2 linked regions of the Homo sapiens genome follow. The gene in region 1 interacts genetically with each later gene. Each region holds a gene or a part of one and is shown on either strand. Other genes may lie near its edges.

Region 1 (7,416 bases):
TGTCACCCAGGCTGGAGTGCAGTGGCATGATCTAGGCTCGCTGCAGCCTCTGCCTCCCACGTTCCAGTGATTCTCCTGCCTCAGCCTCCCTGGGTAGCTGGGATTACAGGCGCCTGCCACCACGCCCGGCTAATTTTTGTATTTTTAGTAGAGATGGGGTTTTGCCATGTTGGCCAGGCTGGTCTTGAACTCCTGACCTCAGGTGATACACCTGCCTCGGCCTCCCAAAGTGCTGGGATTACAAGCATGAGCCACCGCACGTGGCCAGATAATTTGTTTTAAGAAGGGATGAGATTAGGCCGGGCTGTGCCTCTACTACAGACTCCTAGTATTTATTTTCTTTAAGAATACTTGGCCAGGCGTGGTGGCTCATGCCTGTAATCTCAGCACTTTGAGATGCTGAGGCAGGCGAATCACCTGAGGTCAGGAGTTCAAGACCAGCCTGGCCAACATGGTGAAACCCCGTCTCCACCAAAAATACAAAAATTAGCTGGGCATTGTGGTGGGCTCTTATAATCCCAGCTACCTGGGAAGGCTGAGGCAGGAGAACTGCTTGAACCCAAGAGGCGGAGGTTGCAGTGAGCCGAGACCACGCCATTGCACTCCAGCCTGGGCGACAGAGCAAGACTCCATCTCCAAAAAGAAACAAAATAAAGAAGGGATGAAATGATGTTGAAGATGAAACCCACAGTGGCAGACCATCCACATCAATTTATGAGAAAAACATTTTGTGTCCTAACTGAAGTGGATTGACAACAGCAGAAATAATAATCAATACCATAGGCATCTCACTTGGTTCGGCTTACATAATTCTGACTGAAAAACTAAAGTTGAGCAAACATTCCACTTGGCAGGTGCCAAACCATCATGCCCAGATCAGCTGCAGAGCTTTCAATGGGAATTTTAAACAAGCAGGATGAAGATCCTGAAGCATTTCTTTGAAGAATTGTAATAGGAGATGAAACATGGCTTTACCAGTACAATCCTAAAGACAATGCACAATCAAAGCAATGGCTACCAAGAGGTGGAAGTGTCTGGTCAAAGCAAAAGTGGACCAGTCAAGAGCAAAGGTCATGTCATTCGTTTTTTTTTTTTTAATGTTCAAGGCATTTTGTTTATTGACTTTCTGGAGGGCCAAAGAACAATAACATCTGCTTATTATGAGAGTGTTTTGAGAAAACTAGCAAAAGTTTTAGCAGAAAAATGCCTGGGAAAGCTTCACCAGAGTCATTCTCCGCTATAACAATGTTCCTGCTCATTTCTCTCAGCAAACAAGGGCAATTTTGCAAGAGTTTTGATGGGAAATCATTAGGCATCCACCTTACAGTACTGATCTGGCTCCTTCTGACTTCCTTTTGCCTTTTTTTTTTTTTTTTTTGGAGACAGAGTTTTGCTTTTGTTGCCCAGGCTGGAGTGCAATGGTGCGATCTCGGCTCCCTGCAACCTCTGCCTCTCCAGTTCAAGCGATGCTCCTGCCTCAGCCTCCTAAGTAGCTGGGATTACAGGTGCCTGCCACCACACCTGGCTAATTTTTTGTATTTTTAGTAGAGACAGGGTATCACCATGTTGGTCAGGCTGGTCTTGAACTCCTGAACTCAGGTGATCTGCCTGCCTCAGCCTCCCAAAATGCTGGGATTACAGGCATTAGCCACTGCACCTGGCCCTTGTTTTCTAATCTTAAAAAACTCTTTCAAGGGCACCCCATTTTTTCTTAGGTTAATAATGTATAAAAGAGGCTGCCTTATCCTTACAAGCAGCCTGCCCTCAACTCTCTCTCAGAGTGTTAAAAAAAAATGTATAAAAGGGCCAGGCATGGTGGCTCATGCCTGTAATCTCAGCACATTGGGAGGCCCAGGCAGGAGGATCACTTGAGCCCAGGAGCTGGAGACCAGCCTGGGAAACATAAAGAGATACTGATCTCCACAAAAAATTTTTTTAAAGAATTAGCTTGGCCGGGCGCAGTGGTTCACGCCTGTAATCCCAGCACTTTGGGAGGCTGAGGCGGGCAGATCACGAAGTCAACAGATCTAGACCATCCTAGCCAATATGGTGAAACCTCGTCTCTACTAAAAAAAAATACAAAAATCAGCTGGGAGTGGTGGCGCACACCTGTAGTCCCAGCTATTCAGGAGGCTGAGGCAGGAGAATCGCTTGAACCTGGGAGGTGGAGGTTGCAGTGAGCCAAGATTGCACCACTGCATTTCAGCCTGGTGACAGAGTGAAGCTCTGTCTCAAAAAAAAAAAAAAAAAAAGAATTAGCTGGGCACAGTGGCATGTCTGTAGTCCCAGCTACTTGGGAGGCTAAGCAGGAGGATTGCTTGAGCCCTGGAGTTTGAGGCTGCAGTGATCTATGATAGCACTACTGCACTCCAGCCTGGGTGATGGAGTGAGACCCTATCTCAAATAAAATAATAATTATAATAAAGACTGCCAGGCACATGGTGGCATGCACATGTGGTCCCAGCTATTTGGGAGGCTGAGGTGGGAGGATCACCAGAGCCCAGGGAGGTTGAGGCTGCAGTGAACTGTGATTGCACCACTGCACTCCAGCGGGGCAATGGGAGTGAGAATCTGTCTCAAAAGTAATAATTATATATATATATATTTATATATATATATATATATATATATATATATATATATATATATATGTTCTAGTATTTTCCTCCCATACCTCCAATGTATAATATCTCATGCACCCTGTGGTCCACCCCCCAAAGACATACACACAACACTTTAGAGTCTCTGATGTAGTCAAAGGGAGTCATTGGAGGTTCTGGAACAGATGACAGGCATGGTAGCAGTTGATTCACAAACTGAAAGCTGAGACATCAAAGAACTGCGACTGCCTTGGAATGTTTCCCATGTGCTAGCCACCGCCTCAGTGCTTTATACATAAATCAGTTAATCCCTATAGCAAGCCTCCATTGTGAATACCATAATTATCTTAACAGACGAGGAGACTGAGGCACAATGAAGTTAAGAAACTTTCCTAGAGTCACACGAAATTGGTGGGGGCCTACTTTTTTTTTTTTTTTTTTTTTTTTTTTTTTTTTTTTTTGAGACTGAATCTAGCTCTGTCGCCAGGCTGGAGTCCAGTGGCGCGATCTCACCTCACTGCAACCTCCGCCTCCCGGATTCAAGCGATTCTCCTGCCTCGGCCTCCCCCCACTAGCTGGGATTACAGGCACTCGCTGCCACACCCAGCTAATTTTTGTATTTTTAGTAGAGACAGGGTTTCACCATATTGGCCAGGATGGTCTCGATCTCCTGAGCTTGTGATCCGCCCACCTCGGCCTCCCATAGTGCTGGGATTACAGGCCTGAGCCACTGCGCCCGGCTGGGGGCCTACATTTGACCCCACGTGGTGGTTTGGGCTCATAGTCCATGTGCTTAACCACTAGTGGGTAGGCAGGGAGCCAGTGTTCTTTCTCTCCTGTGACTTTGGTGAAGTCTCTCACCACTCAGTGTTGTCGTGAGCATGCTAGGCAGAGTGCAAGAAAGGAGCAAGAACTCACTAATGGCTAGGCCTTCCCTGTGTCTCTGTAATTGATGGGTTTGGGTTTTTTTTCCTTTCTCTCTCTCTACCTCCTCTCTCTCTTCTTCATCCTCTCTCTCTCACTCTCCCCCTGAGATAAGGTCTTGCTCTGTTGCCAGGGCTGGAATGCAATGGAATGGTGTGATCATGGCTCACTACAGCCTCAATCTCCTGGGCTCAAGGGATCCTCCCACCTCAACCTCCTGAGTAGCTGGAACCACAGGCATGCACCACCTCGCCCGGCTAATTTTTTATTTTTTGTAGAGAGGGGAGTTTCGCCATGTTGCCCAGGCTGTTTTCGAACTCCTGGGCTGAAGTGATCTTCCTCCCTCAGCCTTCCAAGGTGCTGGGATTGCAGACGTCAGCCACCGTACCAGGCCAACGGGCTCGGTTTCTATGGTTTTGTGGGGAGACGGCTGAGGGAAGGTCGGCTTCCGGCGTCGCGCTGCAAACGTCTCGCTGAGGTCATCCTTTACGGCAGGCGTCCGCGTCGCTAGCTAGTCGTTCTGAAGCGGCGGCCAGAGAAGAGTCAAGGGCACGAGCATCGGGTAGGTAGGGGCTGCTTATGTCCGCGCGGCAGCTTAGCTTAAGGACCTTCCTTCCGAGGTCTCTTTAACAGATTTCCTCTTGGCTTGCTGTGTGTCCCCTTCTCCCAGACCTGAACTCAGGGCGTGTTCCCTGCCCTCCCAGGCCGCTTCACCTCCACAGCTAATGGCACCGAAGCCTGGAGATTGCCGCTCTCTCCACTTTCCACATTTGTTTAGGTTTTTGCCGGACTAATGTTTTGGCTTTCTGTTTCTTAACCTAAAGTCTACGATCCTTATCCCAGCTTTCCAGGCTCTGCGTGATTTCGGCCCCGCCGGCCTCCTGAGCTCATTTCATTCTTTTCACCGTCATGCACGCTGCGCTCCATTGTCCCCCAAACATAGCCAGCACTTCCGGCTGTAACTCCGGGCTGTTGCCCAACTGGAACACTCTGCCCACTGATCTTCACTTGGCGAACTCGCAAGCCATGTTAAAGGCATTTTCAAGTCTCCGGGCAGAGTTCGTGCTTCCTCCTTCGAGCTCTTACCCACTCGTGTTCCTTGCAGTGTATTCGCAATTCCGAGTGTGTGTCTCTGGTGCTTACGTTGGAGCTGCTTTCCCCCGCATCTGAGTGCCTGGAACGTAACTACTCAGTAAATGATGACTGAGGGATGGGAAGGAACTTAAGAAGTTAAATTCACCTTTTTGTTGAGATGGAGTTTCGCTCTTGTTGCCCAGGCTGGAGTGCAGAGTGGCGCGATCTCGGCTCACTGCAGCCTCTGCCTCCCGGATTCAAGCGATTCTCCTCCCTGAGACTCCCGAGTAGCTGGGATTACAGGCATGCGCCCCCACGCCCGGCTAATTTTGTATTTTTTTAGTAGAGAGAGGGTTTCGCCATGTTGGTCAGGCTGGTCTTGAACTCGCGGCCTCAGGTGATCCGCCCGCCTCGGCCTCCCAAGGTGCTGGAATTACAGGCGTGAGCCACTGCGCCCAACTAAATTCACCTTTAAATCTACCATGAGTACACATTTATATTGATATTTGTGGGTGTGCGCGCGCTTCCTTTCAGTCATTTTAGGCAGTCAGGGTTTGTTTTTGTGTGTGTGTTTTTACATTTAACATTATTATGTATTTGCATGTAAATTTTTTTCCCTACTGTCTGTAATAGTCTACAAAGTAAGTCTTAACCCATTTCTTTCGCTCTGGTTTTTTTTTTTTTTTGAGACAGGATCTCGCTTTGTTGCCCAGGATGGAGTGCAGTGGCCAGGTCATAGCTCACTGAAGCCTTGAACTCCTGGCCTCAGTCTCCTGCCTCAGCCTTAGGAGTAGCTGGGACTACAGGCGCACATACCACCACAAGTGCCTTTTTTTTTTTTTTTTTTTTTTTTTGAGACAGAGAACCTGACCAAAGGATCCAAATTCTTTTTTTCTTCTTCTTCTTTTTTTTTTTTTTTTTTTTTTGAGACAGAGTCTCGCTCTGTCGCCCAGGCTGGAGTACAATGGCGGATCTTGGCTTATTGCAACCTCTGTCTCCCCAGTTCAAGCAGTTCTCCTGTCTCAGCCTCCCGAATAGTTGGGATTACAGGCATGTGCCAACACGCCCAGCTAATTTTTTTGTATTTTTAGTAGAGACGGGATTTCACCATATTGGCCAGGCTGGTCTTGAACTCCTGACCTCAGGTAATCCACCCGCCTTGGCCTCCCAAAGTTCTGGGATTACAGGCATGAGCCACCGCGCCTGGCCCACAAGTGGCTGATTTAAAAAAAAAATTTAGGCCAGGTGCAGTGGCTCACACCTGTAATCCCAGCACTTTGGGAGGCCAAGGCGGGCGGATCACCTGAGGTCAGGAGTTCAAGACCAGCCTCGCCAACATGCTGAAACCCCATCTCTACTAAAAATACAAAAATTAGCTGGGCGTGGTGGTGCGCACCTGTAGTCCCAGCTACTTGGGAGGCTGAGGCAGGAGAATCGCTTGAACCCTGGAGGAGGAGGTTGCAGTGAGCCAAGATTGCACCATGCGCTGCAGCCTGGGTAACAGACGGAGACTCCATCTCACGTGGTAGGTGAGCCACCGCTCCTGACCGAGAAAGGATTTCTATGCATTGTTCTTTAGTTATAGTTCTCTTTTCCTTGAGTTTTGAAAAAGCGCAAAAACTGCTTATCTGCCATAAACTGGAAGAACCTATTTAATGAAAAAGTTTGGTGAGAAGAAATCAGGAGAATAATATCAAACAGTGTTCTAGAGGGCTACTTAGCATGATTATCTAATTTTTTCTTAGAAATTTCTCAGTTGATTGCCCTCTTGTGGTATTTTATTTACTTATTTTTTTAAATCTTCCATTACAGCCATGCCTTTCTTGGACATCCAGAAAAGGTTCGGCCTTAACATAGATCGATGGTTGACAATCCAGAGTGGTGAACAGCCCTACAAGATGGCTGGTCGATGCCATGCTTTTGAAAAAGAATGGATAGAATGTGCACATGGAATCGGTTATACTCGGGCAGAGAAAGAGTGCAAGATAGAATATGATGATTTCGTAGAGTGTTTGCTTCGGCAGAAAACGGTAAGGAAATGATGGAGGTGGAAGCTGAATTACTTTCTTGTTCCTTTGGGACTCTTTTTTTTTTTTTTTGAGACGAAGTCTCACTCTTGTCCCCTAGGCTGGTGTGTGATGGCGCCACCTCGTCTCACTGTAGCCTCTGCCTCCCAGGTTCAGGCGATTCGCGTACCTCAGCCTCCCGAGTAGCTGGGATTATAGGCACCTGCCACCACGCCTGGCTAATTTTTGTATTTTTAGTAGAAACGGGATTTCACCATGCTGGCCAGGCTGGTCTTGAACTCCAGACCTCAGGTGATCCGCCCCCCTCAGCCTCCCAAAGTAGTGGGATCACAGGCATGAGCCACCGTGCCTGGCCTCCTCTGGGATTACTCTTAAGTGTTTTTAGTGGGTCATTGAGCAGTGGCTTGCCAAATGTGAATTGGCAAAGCTTTTCTGGTGAAATACCTTTCCTACTTTGGTACCATGATGAGGAAATTAAATGCCTTCAGATATGAGGATGGTCCATTGTTCCTCAGCATTCTTTCTCTTCTCCCAAATTTTCCTTAGTATTTTACCCTGCTTTAGCCACCAGGTTAGAAATTGCATGTGTGTGTATACCCATTTTTTCAGTTGGCTGTGAAGCAGAGAATATCAACTAGTTTTGGATGTTGACCCTTGAAAATCTTTGGGTGAAAATATGTTCAAATCCATTGAATCCTCATTGGAAAAGAGGTTTAACCTTGCAAATCCATTACATTCAACATCTTTGGATTCATTCCACTCTGAAGAAGATGGAGGTGTTAATGAGATTG
Region 2 (7,452 bases), on another chromosome or scaffold:
GCCATCGTGCCTGGACCAGATGTAATTCTTGTAAATTTACCCTAGTAAATGGTTTTAAAGAATGGATTGAGAATAATCCGCAATTTTCTAGGGAGGAAATGTATCCTTTACAGGGACATTGCCTGATTGTCTGTGGGGAGTAGAGTATATGTAGAGTGGTTGTTAGGACTGAAAATGATTATTACTGAAACAGGATGTGAGAGATTATAATGAGTTGTCCACTATTTATAATGTCACACAGGAATTCTGTTTCATCGCTGAGTGACACTCTTTTGTTGCAGGCCCCTTCCCTTTCATCCAAGACAACATCTCATTCTATGCAACAATTGGTGTTTGTCTCCTCTTCATTGTCGTTTTAACCCTGCTAATTTGTCACAAGTACAAAAAGGTAAAAGCAAAGGTAAAAATTCATTATTCTTTCCTCTATCTGCAGAACTGCCTATTCCTAACTGACTCATCATTTCATCTCTGAAGCAATTTAGGTATGAAAGCCAGCTACAGATGGTACAGGTGACCGGCTCCTCAGATAATGAGTACTTCTACGTTGATTTCAGAGAATATGAATATGATCTCAAATGGGAGTTTCCAAGAGAAAATTTAGAGTTTGGTAAGAATGGAATGTGCCAAATGTTTCTGCAGCATTTCTTTTCCATTGGAAAATCTTTAAAATGCACGTACTCACCATTTGTCTTTGCAGGGAAGGTACTAGGATCAGGTGCTTTTGGAAAAGTGATGAACGCAACAGCTTATGGAATTAGCAAAACAGGAGTCTCAATCCAGGTTGCCGTCAAAATGCTGAAAGGTACAGTATAGTGGAAGGACAGCAACAAAGATGCACAAAAATGGGAGGCACAGTTTCCCACCCATGCCTTCTTCTCTTTTCCATCCTTTTAATGGTTACTGTTTGCCATGTTTCAAGGCTAAAAATGGAGTGGATTGGGGTGTCAACCCAGTCATGAATACAAAATTCAAGTCATAAATACAAAACTCCACCTCTTCTTCCACTTCTCTCTTTGTTTATTTTTATTTTCTTTTATTTTTTTGAGACAGGGTCTCACTCTGTCACCTAGGCTGGAGTACAGTAGTGTGATCATGGCTCACTGCAGCCTCCACCCCCTGGGCTCAGGCTCCTCAGCAGCTGGGGCTACAGGCGTGCACCACCACGCTCAGCTAAGTTTTTTATTTTTGGTAGAGACGGGGTTTCACCATGTTGCCTAGGCTGATCTGGGACTCCTGAGCTCAAACTATCTGCCCGCCTCGGCCTCCCAAAGTGTTGGGATTACAGGCGTGAGCCACTGTGCCAGGCCTATTTAGTTTTTATAGGCTTTGATATTTGGGGATACAGTTGCCACAGGCAGAAGTTCTTTCTTACATTTGTGTTGTTTTATTTTTAGAGACAGGATCTTGCTCTGTTACCCAGGCTAGAGTGCTGTGATCATAGCTCACTGCAGCCTCGACCTCCTTGGCTCTAGCAATGCTCTCACCTCAGCCTCACAGGAGTGTGCCAAGACAATTGGCTAATTTTTTTTTTTTTTTGTAGATACGGTGTCTCACCATATTGCCCAGGATGGTTGCAAACTCCTGGCTCAAGTGAGGCTGCCTTGGCCTCCTAAAGTGCTGGGATTACAGGTGTGGGTTGAAACAGACTCTGGGTAGGAGAGAAAACTGGGGCCCTTTGTATCCTCACTTCGTTGCTCCATCCATTCCGATCTGGCGTCCAGCCCCATTGCTGGCCTCACCGTTACCACCGCTGACCCAGCAAAAGCATCTCCAGCTGGCTCTCTTGCTAAGGTCAACAGTGACTTCAAACCAAACCAAGCCTAATGGATATTTTTCAGTCCTCATTACTTGATTGTTCAGCATGAATTGATGCTGTTGATTCTTCTCTCCATCCAGAAGCTTTCTTTCTTTGGGTTTTGTGTCACCATATTCTGGTTTTCCTCCCACCCCTCTGCCCTTCTCAGTCCTTTGTGGGCTCATCTTCTTCCATCCAGCTTTTGTTGTTGTGGCTGATTTTGAAACTCAGTCCTTTGTGGGCTCATCTTCTTCCATCCAGCTTTTGTTGTTGTGGCTGATTTTGAAACACAGCCTTGCTCTGTTGCCCAGGCTGGAGTGCAGTGGTGTGATCTCAGCTCACTGCAACCTCCACTTCCCAGGCTCAAGCCATCCTCCCACTTCAGGCCCCTGAGTAGGGGGGACTACAGGCATGCGCCACCATGCCTGGCTAATTTTTGTATTTTTGGTAGAGATGGGGCTTCGCCATGTTGCCCAGGCTCCATCCAGCTTTTTATGGGGCATCCCTGTGGGCTTGCTCCTGGACCGCCTTGCGTTTTCGCTCCACACACTCAACACAGTCCATCCCCACTACACCCGTGATGTCCTCCCATACACCAAGGGCCCTCATGCTTGCGTCTCCTTTCGGAGCTTCAGGTTCATATGTTAAATGTTTGGATGTCTCAAAGGTCCCTTTAACACAGTGTATGCAAGGTGAATTCCCCTAACCCTGGCCCTGCACCAGCAGTCCTCTCTGTGACTGGTAATGAATGCCAGTGAATAAATAACCACATTCTATATAGTTGGGCACACTAGAAACCCGTGACTTTTCCTTGACACCTTCCTCTTTCTAACACCCTGTGAGCTAATCCTATCAGGTTTCCGATTAGTGTCTCTTGATTCCATCCTCGTCCCTCCATCTCTATGACCACCACTCTAGTTCAAGGCTCTCTCCTGGACAAAAGCTTCCAAAGCAGGTTCCTGTATCCACTCTTGCCTCCCTTTGGCTTCTCCATACTGAGGTCCAAGTGACAGTGGCGAAAGGCTAAGCAGATCAAATGGCTTTCCTACTTCACATTTCCTCCACCACCCGCATGGCTGGGCCACCGCTGCCTCCCCACCTCTTGCTCTCGGCACCCCAGAGCGCTGGCCTTCTTTCAGTTCCCCCAGCACTGTCCTCCCACCCACTGTGGGGCCTTTGCACAAGTGGATCCTTCTGCTTCCCCTTCCCCTTTCATGTAAGTATCTCCCACTGCCCCCTCAGATCTCAGCTTAAACACCACTTCCTCTGTCTCACACCACAGACAATATTGAGGCCCTTGCAATGTGCGACATTAGCTCTCTGCAGGCTTTCCCCCGTAGAATCCATCACCTTTGTCATGACATTTTTTAACATCCAATTGTTGTCCCATCTGTCCAGTAGCCCCTGTGCCTCATGAGGGCAGGGTCTGTGTCTGTGGTGCTGTGCTCTCTCCTTTCTCGACCTTTGCCCACTCTTTCACAACCCTCAGCACTGTTCTCCTCCCCTTCCACCATGAGTCACCTGGCCAGCTCCCATTTTTCTTCAGGACTCAGTTTAGACATTGAATGCTCCTTTCTCCACCCCTCCAAGGCTAAGGTAGCTATCCCTTTTGACCCTACAGTACCCCTGCACTCCTTTGCCACGTTGCATTTTTTCTTCTTTTTTTGAGACGGAGTCTCACTCTGTCGCCCAGGCTGGAGTGCAGTGGCACCATCTCAGCTCACTGTAAGCTCCGCCTCCTGGGTTCACGCCATTCTCCTGCCTCAGCCTCCCTAGCAGCTGGGACTACAGGCACCCACCACCACGCCCGGCTAAATTTTTTTGTATTTTTAGTAGAGACAGAGTTTCACCGTGTTAGCCAGGATGGTCTTGATCTCCTGACCTCGTGATCCGCCTGTCTCAGCCTCCCAAAGTGCTGGGATTACAGGCATGAGCCACCGTGCCCAGCCCAACGTTGCATTTTTTCTTTTTCTTTCTTTTTTCTTTTTTTGAGATAGGGTCTCACTCTGTCACCCAGGCTGGAGTGCAGTGAAGTCATCATAGCTCACGGCAAGCTTCAAGTCCTGGGCTCAAGTGATGGTCTGCAGCCTTTCCAGTAACTGGAACTACATGCAGGCACCACCAAGCCCAGCTAATTTTTATTTTATTTTATTTTATTTATTTATGTATTTTTACTTTATTTTATTTTTAAGTAGAGACAAGCTCTTGCTATTTTGCCCGGGCCTTTCTTGAACTTCTGGGTACCAGCAATTCTCCCGCTTGTCTCAGCCTCCCAAGATGTTGGGATTAGAGGCGCGGGGACCCACGTCTTGCCTGCCGTATTGCATTTATGGCACTGTATTGTCATGGCTTATTTACTTCTCTGCCTTCTCCAGGAGACTCTAAGATCCAGGAAGACAAGGGTTGTGTCTTGTTTTTCCTTCATTCCCCAGTGTCTAGGACATTGGCTCTTACAGAGTAGGCACTCAATAAATACTTGTTGAATGACTGAATGAAAGAGGTAATGGTACATGAAAATGCTTAGAAGAAGCTAAGCATGCTAAAAAATGTAAGATATTATTTTAGCCATGAGGAATAGGACATGAACAAGTAAAGCCCCGAATCCCTGTCCAGCGTGAAGCTGAAGACATGATGTATTAGGGGGTCCCAGTGCCCACAGGAAATCCCACCCCCAAGCTAAAATCTTGGAAACAAGGATACCCCTGAGAGCTTGCCCAAACCAAAATAGAGGATGTCAGCACCGGAGAAGCCACTATAAAGGTTAGGATGCCTTCCTGGACAAAATAATGGAACCTGGCAATCGAACCAAATCTTCACTGAATGTAAAGAAGAGTTACTATATCTGGAAGAAAAAGTCTGTTCACAGAGGGGTGGTGCCTGGAGCCTGGAGAGGGAAGTCCAGAGACCCTGCCCTTGCCCCTGTGGCTGCCCGGGCTGCCCTGACCAACTGCACATGAGCCGCAATGACGGGAGCCCTTGGATTCCATAGTGACTTTCCTCACACTGTGCTTCTAAGTCAGCTTATAAGTACAGTTTGCTGAGCTATCTGGAATTTTCCCTAGAGAGAGAATGCATTGGCCAACCAATATGTTCTAGCCTGCTTGGCAGTTTTATTTCTCAATGTCAATTAATGGGTCTCTTGAGCACCTGATAGTGGGAATTAGTCCTCTTTGACCTTCTCCCATTGGACTTGCTGGCAAATCTAATGTTCTAGACCTGAGGGCCACAGGCTAGAGTCAACCATGCTCACGACACTGTTATCTCTCTCTGACTACAACAGATCCAAGAGTTCAAACAAACAAACAAAAAGGACGTTTCTCCCTTCTGTTAACTTGTACTGAGGAGGAAAAGCATGTGTTATTATTTTGTTTGTTTGTTTTGAGGGCCAACTGTAAGGATTTTTATTTTGGTAGGTAGAGGAAAGTCCTGTTGAAAGGTGCATTACCAGATTCAACATTTATACTATAGTCTTTGTTTTGTTTTGTTTTGTTTTGTTTTTGAGACAGAGTCTCGCTCTGTCACCCAGGCTGGAGTGGTGCAGGGGCTCAATCTCGGCTCACTGCAACCTCTGCCTCCCCAGTTCAAGGGATTCTTTTGCCTCATCCTCCTGAGTAGCTGGAATTACAGGTACGCACCGGCACGCCCGGCTAATTTTTTGTATGTTTAGTAGAGACAGGGTTTCACCATGTTGGCCAGGTTGGTCTTCAACTCCTGACCTTAAGTGATCCACCCGCCTTGGCCTCCCAAAGTGTTGGGATTACAGGTGTGAGCCACTGCGCCCAGCCCTATACTACAGTCTGAATTCTGCCTTAGGCTGGGCATGGTGGCTCATGCCTGTATTCCCAGCACTTTGGGAGGCGGAGTTGGGAGGATTGCTTGAATCTAGGAGTTCAAGACCAGCCTGGGCAACATGGTGAGACCCCATCTCTACAAAAAATATAAAAATTAGCTGGGCATGATGGCCTGTGCTTGTAGTACCAGTAACTTGGAGGGCTGAGGTAGGAGGATCACTTGAGCCCAGGAGGCAGAGGCTACAGTAAGCTGAGATCATGTCACTACACTCCAGCCTGGGTGACAGAGTGAGATACTGTGTCAAAAAAAAAGAAAGAAAGAAAAGGAAAAAAAAAAAAGAAAAAGGAGAAATTCTGTCTTAAAACACAGGATATTGTTTGTTTGTTTATTTATTTATTTATTTTAAGATGGAGTTTCACTCTTGTTGCCCAGGCTGGAGTGCAATGGTGCAGTCTCAGCTAATTGCAACCTCTGCCTCCCACATTCAAGCGATTCTCCTGCCTCATCCTCCCAAGTAGCTGGGATTACAGGTGCCTGCCACCACGCCTGGCTAATTTTTGTATTTTTAGTAGAGACGAGGTTTCACCATATTGGCCAGGCCAGTCTTGAACTTCTGACCTCAAGTGATCCACCCACCTCGGCCTCCCAAAGTGCTGGGATTACAGGCATGACCCACCATGCCTGGCTTCTCTCATAATTTTGAATTTAAATAAATAATGCAGATTGACTCTGAGCTGAGAAAAATTTTATTTAATGACATAAAATTCGTATTTTACTTGAGTTTTACATTTTTAATGCTCCTTTCTTTGACAGAAAAAGCAGACAGCTCTGAAAGAGAGGCACTCATGTCAGAACTCAAGATGATGACCCAGCTGGGAAGCCACGAGAATATTGTGAACCTGCTGGGGGCGTGCACACTGTCAGGTAACCCACTTCCACGAAAATCACCTCATCAAAAAGACTGTAGCTTGATGACAAAGAGGATGTTTGCTCTCTCTCTCTCTCTCTCTCTTTTTAATTCTTTGTCTTTTCTCAGTCACAGTGTGAACTCTCAAACCCAAGTGGAATTAGACACTGAGCACTCTATAAATCAGAGGGGTCAAAATAAAGAATGCCTCATTCATCTGCTTTATCGTGATATATTGCATAATTCTCACCTGCTTAAAAACAACAACAACAACAACATTGCAAGTACATTTGGTGGTGTCTGTGCTTCTCTCCCAGCTTGGAAGCTGGTGCACAGGCGTGGTGAGAGTGGTTACAGAGCCTGGCCACTGCCCCAGTTGGGCTGCCGTCAAATACGGCACAGCCTAGCTAGGATATCAGACTTTACTTTCCCAGAATTCTCTGGGGCATGCCCTCTGATCTTCTCTCTTCTGCCTAGAAATACCCAAATGATGTGCCCAAGGTTCATTCTTTCTGCAGCAGCAGGCCTGGGGCTGGTACTAAAAGAAAGGAAAAAGAGGAAAGTGAATCTGAGAGAGGACTGGGAATATATTTCTCCCTCCTCAAGCAAACAGCAAATCAGCATATAGTTACCAAGTGTTCACCTATAATACACAGCTAGAACATTACTTTCAGTTGCCAACTGGAGAATCCAGGAGGCCAGTGGTATTGGTGAGGCCACACATACAAAAAAGGGCCACAGAGAATGTCAAGAAGATGCTGCTTTCCAAAGAAATTTGAGCAAAAGCTGAAACTGAATTTAAAGTATAAGAAGAGCTAGGCTCAGAAAAAGTTGTACTGTCCCCAAGTCAGCAGAGAACCAAGCCCTCCTAAGAGTATGTTGTCTGCTACATAGACTTCTGAAATAACAGTTTGCTTTGTGTATGCCTATAATTGAAACTGTAACTATTTCAGGACCA

The links.
Region 2: changes in NDUFS5 (region 1) and FLT3 together harm fitness less than expected from each alone (positive genetic interaction), as found in Homo sapiens cells (one study listed by BioGRID).

What each region holds. Positions count from the first base shown.
Region 1 is NC_000001.11:39,022,313-39,029,728, forward strand, and holds the start of NDUFS5 (NADH dehydrogenase [ubiquinone] iron-sulfur protein 5), read left to right. Parts: upstream 1-4,037; 5' UTR 4,038-4,090; intron 4,091-6,410; 5' UTR 6,411-6,412; coding exon 6,413-6,628; intron 6,629-7,416. UniProt on the Homo sapiens protein: Accessory subunit of the mitochondrial membrane respiratory chain NADH dehydrogenase (Complex I), that is believed not to be involved in catalysis. Complex I functions in the transfer of electrons from NADH to the respiratory chain.
Region 2 is NC_000013.11:28,027,237-28,034,688, reverse strand, and holds part of FLT3 (receptor-type tyrosine-protein kinase FLT3 precursor), read left to right. Parts: intron 1-281; coding exon 282-388; intron 389-474; coding exon 475-607; intron 608-697; coding exon 698-802; intron 803-6,400; coding exon 6,401-6,511; intron 6,512-7,447; coding exon 7,448-7,452. UniProt on the Homo sapiens protein: Tyrosine-protein kinase that acts as a cell-surface receptor for the cytokine FLT3LG and regulates differentiation, proliferation and survival of hematopoietic progenitor cells and of dendritic cells.